2 separate regions of the Homo sapiens genome follow, and region 2 is linked to region 1. The links come from fine-mapping of genetic effects on gene expression. A gene starts in region 1. The other region holds a variant in brackets. All regions are shown on one strand. Distances are between the middles of the regions. Region 1 holds the start of MAN2B1 (mannosidase alpha class 2B member 1). Region 2 overlaps ZNF791 (zinc finger protein 791).

Region 1 (8,327 bases):
AAAATACAAAAATTAGCTGGATGTGCTTGTTTGAACCCAGGAGGCAGAGGTTGCAGTGAGCCGAGATCGCACCACTGCACTCCAGCCTGGGTGACAGAGTAAGACTGTCTCAAAAAAATTAAAAATAAGGAGAACGTGTTAGGGGATGCCTGTACCATGGAAAGAGCTCATTGTATTGTATATACCGGACTCGAAGGTTCTGGACACCAGGGTTACCTGGGCAGTGGCCACATTTAGGAAGTAATCGACCAGCTCCTTGGCGTTGTACTCGGGGCTGCGAGGGTCCTCCACCAGCGGCTGATCGACACACAGCACATCCCAGCACAGATTCCTTGGCGGGTTGTAACCATTGGGAAGCACACCTGCAGGTCACACCAAGTTCAAGGGGTGGCCCATCACCCAGACCTTCCCTGGTTTCAAAGCCGGCCATGTCCCACCCAGGATGGGCTTCAGAATTTGTGTCCCAATGCAAAAGGAAATGCAGGGCCTTTGTTCCCAGACTATAGGAATTCCAGGACAGTGACAACAGAGCAGATATCAAGCCCAGGGCCCTTCTGAGTGTGTGGCACCATGGCTGGCCCTGCCCTCACCAAGCCCCCTACCAGTGAAGAGGTCCGCGGTCGGGGGCTTCAGGCTGGTGCTGGCCCGCCACACCTGCTCCATCTCCAGCTTCTGCATCCGTACCCACTTATCTTGATAATCAAGGCGCCCAAAGAAGAAGCCGTCGAAGCCCATCTGGGGATGAGGGAGGAAAAGGCAGTGTGAATTAGTGCCCAGCCCTCTCACCACCAAACTCCCCTCTGCTTGGGAGGGGCAGGTCAGAGCACAGGTTAAAAAGCAGTGCTAGGTCGATGTGGTGGCTCTTGCCTATGATCCCAGCCTTCTGGGAGGCCAAAACAGGAGGATCACTTAAACCCAGGAGTTTTTGAGACCAGCCTGCACAACACGGGCAGACTGTCTACAAAAAATTTAAAAATTAGCCAGGCGTAGTGGTGCGCTCTTGTAGTCTCATCTACTAGGGGGGCTGAGACAGGAGAATCGCTTGAATCCGGGAGATTGAGGCTATAGTGAGTTAGGATTGCACCACTGCACTCCAGCCTGGATGACAGCAAGACCCTGTCTCAAAAAACAAAAACAAAAACACGTAGGGCTGAAACAGAGAGGCCTCCAGCTTATTTCCAAGCTTGGGGAAGTTTCAGAACTCACCACCTTGGGCTAGCAGGGAGAGGGCGGGTCCAACATCAGAACCCAGGTTCACCTCCCCAGCACTGTCAAAGCGCAGAGCAGGCCTGACTCCAGGAATGAGGTTCCCCCTTCCACAGCCTGAGGATGGATGGGGTCTGAGCACAGGTAATGAACCTGTTTTTAAGGCAGCCTAGGCATCCACTTGCCACCCGGTTTAGGGAGGAGCCAGGACCCGAGCTAGTGGGTGGGGCCAGAACACCAAGAGGGGCCTATTAGGGGAGAGGGCGGAGCCAGCCGGAGCTGGGTCAGCCTGGGCTGGGCATAGCCGGCTGAGGCCAGAGCTCAAAAGCCACTGGCTTTACGGCTCACTCAAGGGGCAGGGCTTCAACAGGCCTAGGCCTGGGCCTGGTCCTTGTGAGATTGCAGGGAGAGGGCGGGGTTTGACTGGGCGAGGGAGGAGCCAGAGTGAGTGAAGAAGTGGGCCCAAGAGAGGTCCCGGGTCGCACCTGCGCAAACAGCGAGGCCTGCTCCCGAGAGTGGCCGAAGGGGTCAATGTGCCAGGCCACACGGGGTCGCCCATCATTGCCAAATGTGTCCTCCAGAAAGCGCAGCCCAAGTGTCATCTGGTCCACGATGGCACCGTAGTGGGTGGCTGCCTCATCGTTCATCACCCAGCCACCATTGGCGAACTCCAGGCGCCCTGTGCCAGGACAGGCAAGGTCAGGGTCAGCGGTCAGAGCCAGGAGTGGGAGTAGGGTGGGTGATACTGGGAATGTGAAAGCCTGCCTGTGTACACATTTCTGGCGGAAGGACAAGAGGGGTCGCTCCCAGGCCATAGTTCCCAGATATGGGAAAGAGGCCCCCTGCATGGCAGGCTTCCCAGAGGATGCACAGCAGGTGGGGCTTTGTGGGATGTATAGGAGGTCTCCAAATGGAGAGTCCAGGCAGGCGGAGCGACACGCATGTTATACAGCTTGCACGTGGCATGACAAATCTCAGAAACCAGAGATGCAGAAGCAGAAGCTGGGCTGGGCTTCCTCTTTTCACTTCCTTGGGGTAGGCTCACCCTGGCGCACAAGGTCTCGCACGACTTCCTGTGTGGCATTTGTCTGCTGGTGCCACCAACGGGAGAAGAAGGCAATCTCCACGTAAATGAAGCGACGGGTGGGATCTGCCAGCAAGGCAGAGATGACCGAGTCCAGGATGTACTGCACACCGGCGTGCTGGATGTCATTCTTGACTGTGGATAACAGGGATAAGGCTCTCAGGGAACAGCAGAGCCAAGGGGGTTATTCCTAGACAGAGGAGCCCAAACCCTGGATATTAGGGTAGCACTGGCCCCACCCTAATGTCCAGGACCCAGAGGGATTACAGGGACCATGGGGATCCCAGGGACCAGTCCCCATCCTCTACTCACTTCCATAAAAGTACTGGTCCACGGTTTTGAGCCAGCCCACGTCATCATGTGTGTGAGGCAGCAGGTGCACGTTCAGCATGTTCGGCTGCACTGTGGGGCATGTCTGCACAGGGACCCCAAACACACATACCTTGTCAATAACCCCCGAGGTCGGGGGCTGCAGAGTAAGTCTTGATCTAGAGGTGAGTGACTCAGAGAGGCCTGATCTCGCCTATGTGCAGAGGAGGCCAGGCCCTCCCAGGCAGGACACACACATACATAGTTGTGCTCATAGATACAACTCCACTTTGCACAACCCCACAGGGCAGCTCTCATTCACACTCCGGGAAAATAATAATAGAAGTAGCTGATGTTTGTTCAGCATTTGCCGACAGCAGACGGCCACCGTGGGAGGTGGGGTGATGTTATCCCCAGTTTCCAGATGAAGGCACTGAGGCTTAGAGAGGATAGGTGACTTGCCCAACGTCACACACTCAGGAAGTGTAAGAGCTAGGCTGGAATTTCAGGCAGACTCCAGAGTCCCAGCTCTCAGCCAGCACCTCCCCCCACACATACACTGCTCACCCCCTGCCACCTCCTGCCCCTCCAATCCCACAGTTAAGTGCAGACAAAGTCTAGGCAAGCATCCCGGAGACACGGAGGCAGGTACAATCAGACACAGTCCTATACTCAGATGCGCACAGCCAGACCTCGCAATGACACAAAGCACGCACTCAGACCACACTGTCATATCATCAGCCATTCACTAGACACCCACAGGACAGACCCACCCACACCTCTAGACTGTATTCTGGGTTTCACTCTGCCTCCTGTACGTTTCAGCTCGGAGGCCCCACTCACCTCGTATCCCCCGGCCCGAGCACCGGCAGCCGCCAGCAACAAAAGGAAAAAGCAGAGAGGCGGGAGCGGTGGCCGCAGGGCGCGGGACATGGTCCAGGGGCCTGCTGAGTCCAGGCAGCCGCGAGCGCAGACCCCCGAAGCCCGCGCGTAGGCGCCCATGGCTCAGCAGCTTCCTCCTGGGGTTCCCCGGCCCTGGAAAGGCCGGGCAAACGCCCCGCCCCCAGACCCGGCCGGGCCAATCGGGGTGGGGGGCGGGGCCAGGGCGCGGTCTGGAGGCTCACGGGAGAGAGGCTGTAGCCCTGGGCAATCCCGGGGGTCGTTACAGGAAGGTAGGAAAATGCCACCCTCAGGGCACTGGTTGGGCTAAAGGTGACACTGGCGTCTCACGGGCTATGAAGACGGAATGCCTCTTAATGCCGGAATTCCAAGACGGAATGCCTCTTAATGCCGGTAGGAGCAGAAGTGCTTTTCCTAAGGGGGCCGGGTTTTCCTAGCCGGTGTAGTGTGTCCATGGGAATCCAGGGTGTCCGTCCCATGGACCTTCAGCGCTAGGGTCCTGGAAGGACCTAGCTTGCCTAAGAGGAGGATCTGATGAAGAGTCCTATACTGTGGGGATTGGGACGTTGGGTAAATACCCCTGGAGTACCAGGGATGGGATCCAGCCTGGTTGAGAAGGATCCCTGGGTGTTCCGGAGAGAAAAGAGGGTCTGACAAGTGGGGAAGGACCCCGAGTCTTTCATGCCTTTCCCAATTCCTACCAGTTCATTCTCTGATAAGAAAACAAAGCCCAGGGCAGGCGCAGTGGCTCAAGCCTGCAATCCCAGCACTTTGGGAGGGCCAGGCTGGTGAATCACTTGGGCCTGGGAGTTTGAGACCAGCCTGGGCAACATGGGTTGTTTTGTAGAGACGGGTTTGAAAACACAAAATTTGTAATTTTACACAAAATGTAAAAATACAAAAATTAGCTGGGCATGGTGGCACATGCCTGTAATCCCAGCTACTTGGGAGACTGAGGCAGGAGAATCACTTGAACCTGGGAGGCGGAGGTTGCAGTGAGCCGAGATCAAGATCATGCCATTGCCCTCCAGCCTGGGCAACAAGAGCAAAACTCTGTCTCAAAAAAAACAAGAATTAACTGGGCATGGTAGCACGCATTTGTGGTCCCAGTTACGTGGCAGGCTGAGGTGGGAGGATTGCTTGAGCCCAGGAGTTTGAGGCTGCAGTGAACATAGATTGTGCCACTGCACTCAGCCTGCATGACAGATCAAGACCATTTTCTTTCTTAAAAAGGAAAAAAAAAAAAGGAAACCAAAGCCTAGATTATCTAGGTCAGCAGGGCCATCTGGTGAGTTGCCAGAGGGCAGAAGTCACTGTCTTGTCCCTAGCACCTGACTTAAGACACAAGGTTTATGAAGTAAGCAAATGAACAGCCAGAAGCCTCCAGACTGGGGCCCCACACCAGGCCTATGGGGCTAGAGCCCTTCCCGCCAGGTAGGAGGAACACCCCACTGAACAGAAGAGGCTGACAGCCAGAGTGAAAAACTTTATTAACAACAGGTTTCAACGAGAAAGCAAATGAATACCCCTAGAAACATGGACAGCATCTCCCCCAGCAGCAGGCAGGGGAAGGGAGGCAGGAGGGGTAAGCCTAGGGTGTTCCCTAGGAAAGGGCCAGGTTCCCTCTATCCAGCTGGGGGCACCGAGACGGCCTCATTCAGGGAAGTCCAGGATGGCAGCTGAAGGCAGCAGGTTTAGCAGCCAAAGCCCAGGCCTAGTGGATAGACAGGGTCCAAAATGTGACCCTTCTAGGCTGGTATCACCATGGGGGCGTCATGGGCTGAGGATTCTGCAGATAGGACATCACCACGGCAGAGATGGACAGCCTGAGACAGGAGAGAGGTGTCAGTCTAGGATGGCCAGGCTGGGGTCCCCCCACCCCTTACTCAAGAGTCACTTGTTCTGTAGGGCAAGTCTCACATGAAGCTACTCATCATTTGCTTCGTGTCCTCCGAGCTCCGAGAGTTGGCAAAGCTGATGAAGGAGCAGTAGACAGCGACCCAAGCACACCACTTCAGCTAGGGAAAGGTAAGTGGGTGGGCAGGTTAGTGAAAGGCACAACAATGAGTCCCCGAAGCCACCTTTCCAGACACCAGATCATGCCCACTGATTCCATCTGATGCAGCTGGGACCTTGCCCCACCCGGAATTCCTCAGTCCCACCTGCTCATGGCATACTCTAGATACGTGGTTTCTAGTCCTACTGTCTGGCCTGCGTCTCTCAGGACCAAGAGAGACTCTGACATCCCACATGCTTAAGACCCTGCCCTTTTTCCACAACTCCTCTCCAAGTTGCTTCAAAGCCTGGCCCCACTCGCAGACCAATCTGCCACATCCCCAACCTGACTCGAATCCTTGACTTCACCAAAGACTGGGGCTTTCTCGGCCCAGCGTCATCGCAGCCCCACTCCCGGCCGATCTCAGGTCCCGCCCCATCAGCAATGACAAGACACCCCGCTTCATTCCAAACCCGCCCCCGGGCCTCGTTCTCAGGTCCAACTACACCCATAGAAGCTCAACCCCGCCCACCTTAAGCATGAGGCCGCACATGCTGAAGATCATGCCCAGCAGGTTCATGTAGTCCGGCGTCGGGTCGTCCAAGGCCGGGTTACATTCGCTCGGCGGGGGCTTGTACCTGCGACAGGCTCGAGGGTCAGGGGCGCTCAGGTCCTGCCCCCGGGATAGACAGGCGCTTCCCAGGGCCCCGATCCACACCCACAACCCGAACCCGTGCCCACGACGCTGGGGTCCTCACCTCAGCACTTTGTTCGGCCTCCGTGGGTCCGACATATTGTTAGTGGACATAGCGAGTCGAAGGCCAGATCACGCCTCTTCCGCTGCAGGAATCGCAGCTTCCGGCGTGCAAGCTGAGGGCGGATTTTAGAGTAACACCCGAGGCCCTCGCATTTCCGTTCCTCATGACAGAGGCTTGGACTCCCCTTACCCAGAGAACGGAGATTTAGGAGAAGCCAGAAGTCTTCCTTTCAAAGGGAAAATGGGGAAAAGAACCTGAAAGCGGGCTTCAATAGTTCCAACCCGATCACCGAAATGCCAAAATGATGAACCCGGAAGTGATAAACAGGAAGTAGGTCAGGAAGAACAATAATAAGGTTACACCCAAGCGTGGGTTTCTAAGGCGCGGAATTTTCCGTACAGACCGATTTAAGGCTGCAAGGAAGGAGTCCTGGGAGCATGGCTTTCCCTGAGCCAAAGCCGCGGCCTCCAGAGCTGCCGCAGAAACGGTTGAAGACGCTGGACTGCGGGCAGGGGGCAGTGCGAGCCGTACGATTTAATGGTGAGCGCCTTCGTCTTCATTCCGGGTCCTCCTCCCGCCTCCTGAGATCGACGGCCCAGTAACCCCCGCCTGGTGTTCCCCAGTGGATGGCAATTACTGCCTGACGTGCGGCAGTGACAAGACGCTGAAGCTGTGGAACCCGCTTCGGGGGACGCTGCTGCGGACGTACAGCGGCCACGGCTACGAGGTGCTGGATGCGGCCGGGTGAGCCGGGGACCAGGCTGGGATGGGAGCGCTGAGGCTGGGATCCGAGGTCGATGCTGATCCTCCTCCTCCTTTACTCCAGCTCCTTTGACAACAGTAGTCTCTGCTCCGGCGGCGGGGACAAGGCGGTGGTTCTGTGGGATGTGGCATCAGGGCAGGTCGTGCGCAAATTCCGGGGCCACGCAGGGGTGAGTGAAAGCCTGGAGACCCTCATTTGAGTGGAGGGGACCCGTATTAGCGCATAGGTGGTGACACGGCCACCCCCATTACACCGTAAGGATCCCTTCCCCAGATGACGATCCCCCACTCCGCATGCCAGGCTAGGCAGTCACCAACCCCTGTCCTTGCTGTTCCCCCAAAACCTTTCACCTCCCCTTCGCCCTTGCTTTAACCGACACTGGGAACCCTGCCTTTATCCCAGTCCTCCAAAGTCCAGCCTCCTCTGAGTGGCAATAACTTTCTCAGAAGGTGAACACGGTGCAGTTTAATGAAGAGGCCACAGTTATCCTGTCCGGTGAGTCTGGGGCCTAAGCACGGGGGCCCAGGGTGCTGCCCTCCCCCTCCAAACCTGACCTCACCATCATGCTGGCCTCACAGGCTCTATTGATTCCAGTATCCGCTGTTGGGATTGCCGCTCACGGAGGCCTGAGCCAGTGCAGACGCTGGATGAGGCCAGAGATGGCGTGTCCAGTGTGAAGGTGTCAGACCACGAGATCCTGGCAGGGTGAGTGGAGCCAGGACCTGGTCTCACCCCAGGTGCTACGGGGAATCATAGCTGCCCCCATGCTCAGATTAAAACCTACTCTCAGCTGGGCACAGTGGCACACAGCTGTAATCCCAGCTACTTGGGAGGCTGAAGTGGAAGGATCACTTGAGTCCAAGAGTTCGAGGCACCATTGCACTCCATGCTGGGTGAAAGACAGACTGTCTACAAAATAATAATAATCTGGCCGGGCACGGTGGCTCACACCTGTAATCCCAGCACTTTGGGAGGCCAAGGTGGGCAGATCACTTGAGGTCAGGAGGTTGAGATCAGCCTGGCCAACATGGTGAAACCCCGTCTCTACTAAAAATGCAAAAATTAGCCAGGTGTGGTGACGGGAGCCTGTAATCCCAGCCACTCGGGAGGCGGAGGCAGGAGAATCGCCTGAACCCGGGAGTTGGAGGTTGCAGTGAGCCGAGATTGTGCCACTGCACTCCAGCCTGGGCGACAAAGTGAGACTCCATCTCAAAAAAAAAAAGATAAAATGATTTCTAAAAATAAATAAAAATAGGCCGGGCGCTGTGGCTCATGCCTGTAATCCCAGCACTTTGGGAGGCAGAGGCAGGC
Region 2 (8,327 bases), 35 kb before region 1:
CAGTGCACGCCCAGCCTTTCGAGTACACGTGAGAGTGCATACTGGAGAGAAACCCTATAAGTGTAAAGAATGTGGGAAAGCCTTTAGTAGAATCAGTTACTTTCGAATACATGAAAGGACTCACACTGGAGAGAAACCCTACGAATGTAAAAAATGTGGGAAAACTTTCAATTATCCTCTAGATTTGAAAATCCACAAGAGAAATCACACTGGAGAAAAACCCTATGAGTGTAAGGAATGTGCAAAAACCTTCATTTCTCTTGAGAACTTTCGAAGACACATGATCACCCACACTGGAGACGGACCTTATAAATGTAGGGACTGTGGGAAGGTGTTCATTTTTCCTAGTGCGTTACGAACACATGAAAGAACTCACACTGGAGAGAAACCCTATGAATGTAAACAATGTGGAAAAGCCTTTAGTTGTTCTAGTTACATTCGGATACATAAAAGAACTCACACTGGGGAGAAACCTTATGAATGTAAGGAATGCGGGAAGGCCTTTATTTATCCCACAAGCTTTCAAGGACACATGAGAATGCATACTGGAGAGAAACCCTATAAATGTAAAGAATGTGGGAAGGCCTTTAGTCTTCACAGTTCCTTTCAAAGACATACAAGAATTCACAATTATGAGAAACCTCTTGAATGTAAGCAATGTGGAAAAGCCTTCAGTGTGTCCACATCCTTAAAAAAACATATGAGAATGCACAATCGATAGAAACTCTATAAATGTGAGAAATAGGAGAAAGTTTTCAATTCTAACAGATGCTTTCAAAGTTGTGAAAATTCCCACTGAAGAGAGAAATCCTGTCAATGTAAGTAATATAGAAAGCGAGATACAAGATGATTCATGTATAGTCAGGTACCACATAATCATGTTTCAGTCAGCAATGGACCATATAGGTTGGTAGCCCCATAAGATTATATAACACCTAAAACATTTCTATCAACCGCAATTTAGTAGCAGTAGTAACACCATAGTGCAGCACATTATTTAAGTGTTTATGGTGCTGGTGTAAACGTGCTGCACTTTCAGTTGTATAAAAGTACAAGACAGCGGCCGGGGACGGTGGCTCACGCCTGTAATCCCAGCACTTTGGGAGGCCAAGGCGGGCGGATCACGAGGCCAGGAGATCAAGACCATCCTGGCTAACACGGTAAAACCCCATCTCTACTAAAAATACAAACAATTAGCCGGGCGTGGTGGTGGGCGCCTGTAGTCCCAGCTACTTGGGAGGCTGAGGCAGGAGAATGGCATAAACCCAGGAGGCCGAGCTGACAGTGAGCTGAGATCCGGCCAACAGAGCGAGACTCTGTCTCAAAAAAAAAAAAAAAAAAAAAGTACAACACAGCTGGGCATGGTCACACCTGTGATCCCAACACTGGGAGACTAAGGCAGTAGGATTGCTTGATGCCAGGACTACTCTGGTCAACCTAGTGAGACCCTGTCTCTACAAAAAATAAAAACATTTTCTAAGTGTGGTAGCACACCCTGTAGTCCCATCTACATGGGAGGCTGAGGCAGGAGGATTGCCTGAGCCCAGGAGTTCAAGGCTACAGTGAACCAAGATCACGTGATGGCAGTCCAGCATGGGTGACAGTGAGACTGTATCAAAAAAAAAAAAAAAAAATTGGCTGGGCACAGTGGCTCATACCTGTAATCCCAGCACTTTGGGAGGCTGAGGTGGGAGAATCAGTTGAGGTCAGGAGTTCAAGACCAGCCTGGTCAACATGATGAAACCCTGTCTCCATTAGAAATACGAAAATTAGCTGGGCGTTCTGGTGTGCCTGTAGTCCCAGCTACTTGGGAGGCCAAAGCAGGAGAATCGCTTGAACCCGGGAGGTGGAGATTGCAGTGAGCTGAGATCTACCACTACACTCCAGCCTGGGTGACAGAGCGAGACTCCGTCTCGAAAAAAAAAAAATTACAGCACAGATGTGCAATATATACTTGATAATAAATGGCTAAGTTACTGGTTTATATATTTACAATCCTGTTTTAGAATGTATTCCTGTGTTTTTTTAACAGTAAGACAGTCTCAGGCAGGTCCTTAAGGAGATATTCCCGGAAAAACTTTGTTATGATAGGCGATGACGGCTCCATGTGCAGGACTGCCCCTGAACGTATTCTGGCGGGACAAAACATGGAGGCAGAAGACAATGATATTGATGATCCTCACCCCGTGTAGTCCTACACTAATGTGTGTTTGTGTCTTAGTTAGTCTTTAACAAAAATAGTTTAAAAAAATTTAATAGAAAAAGCTTATAGAATATGGACATAAAATATTTTTGTACAGCTGTACAATGTGTTTTAAGCTAAATTATTACAAAGTTTTTAAAAATAAGTTTATAAAGAAAATAATGTACAGTAAGTTAAGGTTTATTCATTATTGAGGAAAAAATGTTTTTATGAATGTAGTGTAGTCCAAGTGTACAGTGTTTATAAATTCTCCATTAGTGTACAGTAACATCCTGGGCCTTCGCATTCACTCACCACTCAACTGACTCACCCAGAGCAACTTCTAGTCCTGCAAGCTATGTTCATGGAGTGTCCTATGCAGGTGCATCCTTTTTTATCTTTTATACTGCATGTTTACTCTGTGTATTTTCTGTGTTTAGACTCATAAATACTTAACATTTTGTTACAATTTCCTACAGTGTTCAGTACAACAACATGTTGTATGGTTTATAGCCTAGTAGCAATAGACTGTACCATATAGTCTAGATGTGTTGTAGCTATACCATCTAGATTTGTGTAAGTTCACTTTGTGATGTTTGTACCATGAGGAAATCACCTACAACACGTTTCTCAGAACATATACCCATGATTAAGCAATCTCTGCCTGTAAAATGCTCCAGAAAATTCACACCATGATATAAATTCATCACACACGATATAAAAGTTAAGGCAAGGCATGGTGGCTCATGCCTGTAATCCCAGCACTTTGGGAGGCCAAGGCAGGCAGATCACCTGAGGTCAGGAGTTCGAGACCAGCCTGGCCAAGACGGTGAAACCCCATCTCTACTAAAAATACAAAAATTACCTGAGCGTGGTGGCATGCACCTGTAATTCCAGCTACTTGGGAGGCTGAAGCAGGAGAATCATTTGAACCTGGGAGGTGGAGGCTGCAGTGAGCTGAGATTGTGCCACTACACTCCAGCCTGGGCAACAGAGCAAGACTCCATCCCACACACCAAAAAAAAGTTAAAAATTTTTTATCACTGGCTCATTCTTCAAGTACATCTCTGGACTATGAATTGTAACTTAACTACTTTTCCAAGAAGTCTTGGAAGTGAGATAATTCTGTAAGTACTCTTTAAGCAGTGGTCAAAAGTTTAAAAGGTTGTGTTTTCTCATTAAATCAGTTAGTAAAACTTTTCTCTTTCTCTTGATGTCTTGATTCATGAGTAAACTGAAGTGTATTTTTTTTTTTTCGAGACGGAGTCTTGCTCTGTTGCCCAGGCTGGAGTTCAGCGGTGTGATCTCGGCTCACTGCAAGCTCCGCCTCCCGGGTCCACGCCATTCTCCTGCCTCAGCCTCCCCAGTAGCTGGGACTGCAGGCGCCCGCCACCATGCCCAGCTAATTTTTTTTGTATTTTTAGTAGAGATGGGGTTTCACCGTGTTAAGCCAGGATGGTCTCAATCTCCTGACCTCGTGATTCGACCGCCTCAGCCTCCCAAAGTGCTGGGATTACAAGCTTGAGCCACCGCACCCGGCCTGAAGTGTATTTTTTTTTTCTTTTAAAGACCAGTGTTAGTAGAAGTGTATTTTTAATATACAATTAGTTTTAATTTGTGTATAGTTTTTCAGTTGTTCTCTGAATAAAGAGATTGTTGAATACTGACACACTGTAACTAGGATTTTTCCTACTGGCCTCATGTGGAAGGTGGTGCATATATTACCCATTATATATTTATTTCACCTTTTCCGAAAAACTGCTTTTTAAATTTCTTGGCCAGACACGGTGGCTCACTCCTTTGTAATTCCAGCACTTTGGGAAACCAAGGCAAGCAGATCACTTGAGGTCAGGAGTTCGAGACCAACCTGGCCAACATGGTGAAATCCCATCTCTACTAAAAATACAAAAATTAGCTGGGCATGTTGGAGGGCACCTGTAATCTCAGCTACTTGGGAGGCTGAGGCAGGAGAAATGCTTGAACCTGGAAGTCAGAGGTTGCAGTGAGCCAAGATCACACCACTGCACTCCAGCCTGGACAACAGAACGAGACTCCATATCAAAAAAATTAAATTAAAATATAATAAATTTCTTGCCGGGCGCAGTGGCTCACACCTGTAATCCCAGCACTTTGGGAGGCCGAGGTGGGCGGATCACGAAGTCAGGAGATTGAGACCATCCTGGCTAATACAGTGAAACCCCGTCTCTACTATAAATACAAAAAATTAGCTGGGCATGGTGGCGGGCGTCTGTAGTCCCAGCTACTCAGGAGTCTGAGGCAGGAGAATGGTGTGAACCCGGGAGGCGGAGCTTGCAGTGAGCCGAGATCGTGCCACTGCAATCCAGCCTGGGCAGCAGAACGAGACTCCATCTCAAATAAATAAATAAATAAAATGAATTTCAGCTAGAAGAGCCTTATTCCATTTTCCTTTTTATTAAACATCTGGCATAAGTTGGTAAGTATGTGAAGTTTATCATATATTCTTATGCGAATTATTATTTTCGCCTTTTTTTTATAATTCTGTCTGGGATTTGAATAGTAGAGTTTGAATTCAGGAAGGACACCTGTGATAGGACAATAAAATCTAGAGCTGGAC[G/A]TGGCCCTCCTGCTACCTGTCGACACAGGTAAATTTCCTAGAATCTGTTCCCTTTATAGATCCATGTTGAAATTCACTTATAGCCTCACTTGCATGAGATTTGCCAGGCAGAAGTGAAGAAGACATTAGTCAGGTATTGGAACCCCACCATACAGGGAGACAGCCTGCTTCCTGCTCATTTTCCTGGTTATTTTCTCTGCCAATCAAAAGTATCCTGAAAACACCCTGAGCTGCTTGACTTCCATTCTCAAAGAGATGTGTTGGTTTCCACAGTTGTCTCCACAAGCTCCGCATCAAAGATCCACGTACAGTTTGGATTTTCCTTCTAGCCTTCATGTGTGGCCCAAGCATCTATTTCAGACTGTCATGGTTGGCATTGTTCTCTGAGGTTCTGTCTTCCCTTTGTGTTTCTATGAGCTTTAATTTGTATGGTTCTTGTTCTGTTAATGCCACTAGGGACTATGTATTCCTGATTCCACCATGACAGCTACAGTAAAACAGTAAAAAAAAAAAAAAACAACTATATGGGAGTTTGTTCTCTTACTGCATTATACAGTGACTACTCTCCCCCATCCTTCCATTTGAGAATAATCACCTTCCTCATATCAGACAAATTGTGGGTGTTTCCAACTATTCCTGAATATTCTCCATCGGTTTATTTTCATTTATGTTTGGTTGTATGCAACTAAAATAATGCATTTTTTATTTATTTGAAGCAAAAGCTTCTTAGATGTTTCTTAGAAATATTTTGTTAACTGTTTCCAAACAACATGTATACTATCAAATATTATCATCATCTGGGTGCAGTGGCTCATGGCTGTAATCCCAACAATTTGGGAGGCTGAGGCAGGATTGCTTGAGGCCTGAAGTTGGAGACCAGCCTGGGCAACATAGTAAGACCCCATCTCTATTAGTTCAAAAACAAATAATTGTCTTCCCCGTTTCCTGAAAGGCTATATTAAAATATCCCATTACAGTTATGAATATTCAGATCAACTTTGTCATTTTGTCAAGATACATTCTGACTCAATATTAGCATGTGCATAAATGTTCTGGTATTTTTCCCTTAGATGTTTTTTATTCTTATACTTACATTTTGTCATAAAACAAAATTCTCTTCAAAACAGTGGTATTTTCAGTGCCCTATTGCCAGCAATCACCACGGTCACACCTGTATTCAGAATTAATTATGGTAATACAGTAGTCAATTCTGATCCAAAGTTTTGCTTTCTGTGGTTTTAGTCACTCATGGTCAAACACAGTCCAAAAATACTTAGTGGAAAATTCCAGAAATAAATGTTTCATAGACTTATTTATTTATTTATTTATTTGAGACAGAGTCTCACTCTGTCGCCTAGGCTGGAGTGCAATGGCGCGATCTCAGCTCACTGAAACCTCTGCCTCCGAGGCTCAAGCAATTCTCCTGCCTCAGCCTCCCGAGTAGCTGGGATTACAGGCATGTGCCAACATGCCCAGCTAATTTTTGTATTTTTGGTAGAGATAGGGTTTCACCATGTTGGTCAGGCTGGTCTGGAACTCCTAGCCTCAGGTGATCCACCCACCTCAGCCTCCCAAAGTGCTGGGATTCCTCCCATCTTACACATGAAAAAACAGAGGCAGAGAGAGCACAGGGTCTTTCCCAAACTCATGTAAATCAGAATTATAGAGTCTCAAAGTTTTGAAGTTCTAGTGTGTTCCACCACCTGTCAAACTTTTTTTTTTTTTTTGAGATGAGGTCTTGCTCTATCACCCAGGCTAGATTGCAGCGGTGCGATCATAGTTCACTGTCACCTTGACTTCTGGGGAGTGATCCTCCTGCCTCAGCCTCCCAAGTAGTTGGGACTGCAGGTGCATGCTTCCATAAGCGGACTTAGAAAATTTGAATGAGGCCGTACTGGGTGCCTCATGCCTGTCATCTCAACACTTTAGGAGGCTGAGGTGGGAGGATGGTTTGTGCCCAGGAGTTCCACGTGGCAGTGAGCTGTGATTACACCACTGCACAGCAACCTGGGCGACAGTGAGGCTCAGTCGTGTTGAAAAAAGAAAAGACAGAGAGAGAAAGAAAAGAAAAAGAGAGAAAGAAAGAAAAAGAAAGGAAAGAGAAAGAAAGCAAAAGAAAGAAAAGCAGAGATATGAGAGAAGGAAGGAAGGAAGGGAAGGAGAAAAAAGGAAAAAAAAAAAGAACTGAGACCCCATCTCTACAAAAGTAAAAAATTAGCTGGGTGTGGTGGGGCACACCTGTGATTCCAGCTACTCCAGAGGCTGAGGTGGGAGGATGGCTTGAGCCCAAGAGTTCGAGCCTGCAGTGAGCCATGATCATGCCACTGCACTCAGACCTGGGTGACACAGTTCATGTCAGCCACCTTCCAAAACAGGCAAGAATGCTATGTGTGTCATAGCCTATAATTTGTACCACATTAAGGTTGCTTTGATCTAGGGCAGAACTTATGAGTCCTTTTTTTTTTTTTTTTTTTTTTTGAGAAGGAGTCTTGCTCTGCCACCCAGGCTGGAGTGCAGTGGCGCGATATTGGCTCACTGCAAGCTCCGCCTCCTGGGTTCACGCCATTCTCCCACCTCAGCCTCCTGAGTAGCTGGGACTATAGGCACCCGCCACCATGCCTGGCTAATTTTGTTTTTATATTTTTAGTAGAGATGGGGTTTCACCGTGTTAGTCAGGATGGTCCCGATCTCCTGACCTCGTGATCCGCCCGCCTCGGCCTCCCAAAGTGCTGAGATTACAGGCGTGAGCCACTGCACCCGGCCAAAGCACCATTCTCTAAAATCCCCACCAAGCCTTTGTCTCCTTGCAGTTAGCTCCTCTCTGGGTGTGCTGCCTGGTGGAACCCTGTAATGTATTTTCTTTCTTTCTTTCCTTTTTTTTTTTTTTTTTTTTTTTTTGAGACGGAGTCTCACTCTGTCGCCCAGGCTGAAGTGCAGTGGTGCGATACCGGCTCACTGCAACCTCCGCCCCCCGGGTTCAAGCGATTCTCCTGCCTCAGCCTCCCGAGTGGCTGGGATTACAGGCGCCCGCCACCGCGCCCGGCTAATTTTTATATTTTTAGTAGAGACGGGATTTCACCATGTTGGCCAGGCTGGTCTCAAATTCCTGACCTCAGGTGATCCACCTGCCTCAGCCTCCCAAAGTGCTGGGATTACAGACGTGAGCCACCGCGCCCGGCCAACCTTGTCTCTTAAAAGTAAAAACAAAATGAGAGATAAGAAGAAATATTTTTGGAAGGCGCACAGGGGAATAAAGCCACCAGGGCATTTTAATCATAAACTCCTTGTCCCATCAAGGCCATCCCTACCCTTTGCCCTCCCCTCCCCAAGACCTACCCTGCCCCGCCCCATCCTGGCCCCCTCCAGCCTTCATCCCCCTTTTTCCCCTCTTTCCCCACTTTGTCTCCTCTTCCCCACTTTATCACCTCTTGCCCCTGTGCGGCCCCGCCGAACTGGAAACGTTTCCAGCAGGTGATTCAGATGCGCCTGTGCAGGACTGTGACCAGGTGCAAGTCGCCCTCCCCTGACCTCCCTGTTTAGCCTGAATGA

What was found. PIP is the estimated chance that this variant, and not a neighbour inherited with it, causes the effect.
Region 2: its variant is fine-mapped to the expression of MAN2B1 in blood mononuclear cells (TOPMed, PIP 0.95).

The regions. Positions count from the first base shown.
Region 1 is chr19:12,663,101-12,671,427 of GRCh38, forward strand. It overlaps MAN2B1 (mannosidase alpha class 2B member 1), which reads right to left and starts at 3,642. Exons shown (of 24, transcript NM_000528.4): 1 at 3,443-3,642; 2 at 2,603-2,705; 3 at 2,252-2,425; 4 at 1,692-1,885; 5 at 603-735; 6 at 217-362. The coding sequence starts at 3,601. It overlaps WDR83 (WD repeat domain 83), which reads left to right and starts at 3,707. Exons shown (of 11, transcript NM_001099737.3): 1 at 3,707-3,892; 2 at 5,408-5,527; 3 at 6,655-6,793; 4 at 6,877-6,997; 5 at 7,080-7,185; 6 at 7,463-7,511; 7 at 7,595-7,721. The coding sequence starts at 6,691. WDR83OS (WD repeat domain 83 opposite strand) reads right to left here and starts at 6,315. Exons shown (of 4, transcript NM_016145.4): 1 at 6,254-6,315; 2 at 6,028-6,133; 3 at 5,420-5,517; 4 at 4,973-5,325. The coding sequence starts at 6,303. The coding sequence ends at 5,259. RefSeq lists enhancers at 1,312-2,260, 2,085-2,134, 2,261-3,208, 2,275-2,324, 2,865-2,914 and 5 more and a silencer at 3,505-3,784.
Region 2 is chr19:12,628,540-12,636,866 of GRCh38, forward strand. It overlaps ZNF791 (zinc finger protein 791), which reads left to right. Exons shown (of 4, transcript NM_153358.3): 4 at 1-5,295. The coding sequence ends at 721. It overlaps LOC105372279 (a long non-coding RNA gene), which reads right to left. Exons shown (of 4, transcript XR_007067142.1): 4 at 4,600-5,949. Among named protein-coding and RNA genes, the nearest start is that of ZNF791, 22 kb to the left of the region's middle. The variant G/A (reference allele first, on the strand shown) is at 4,779.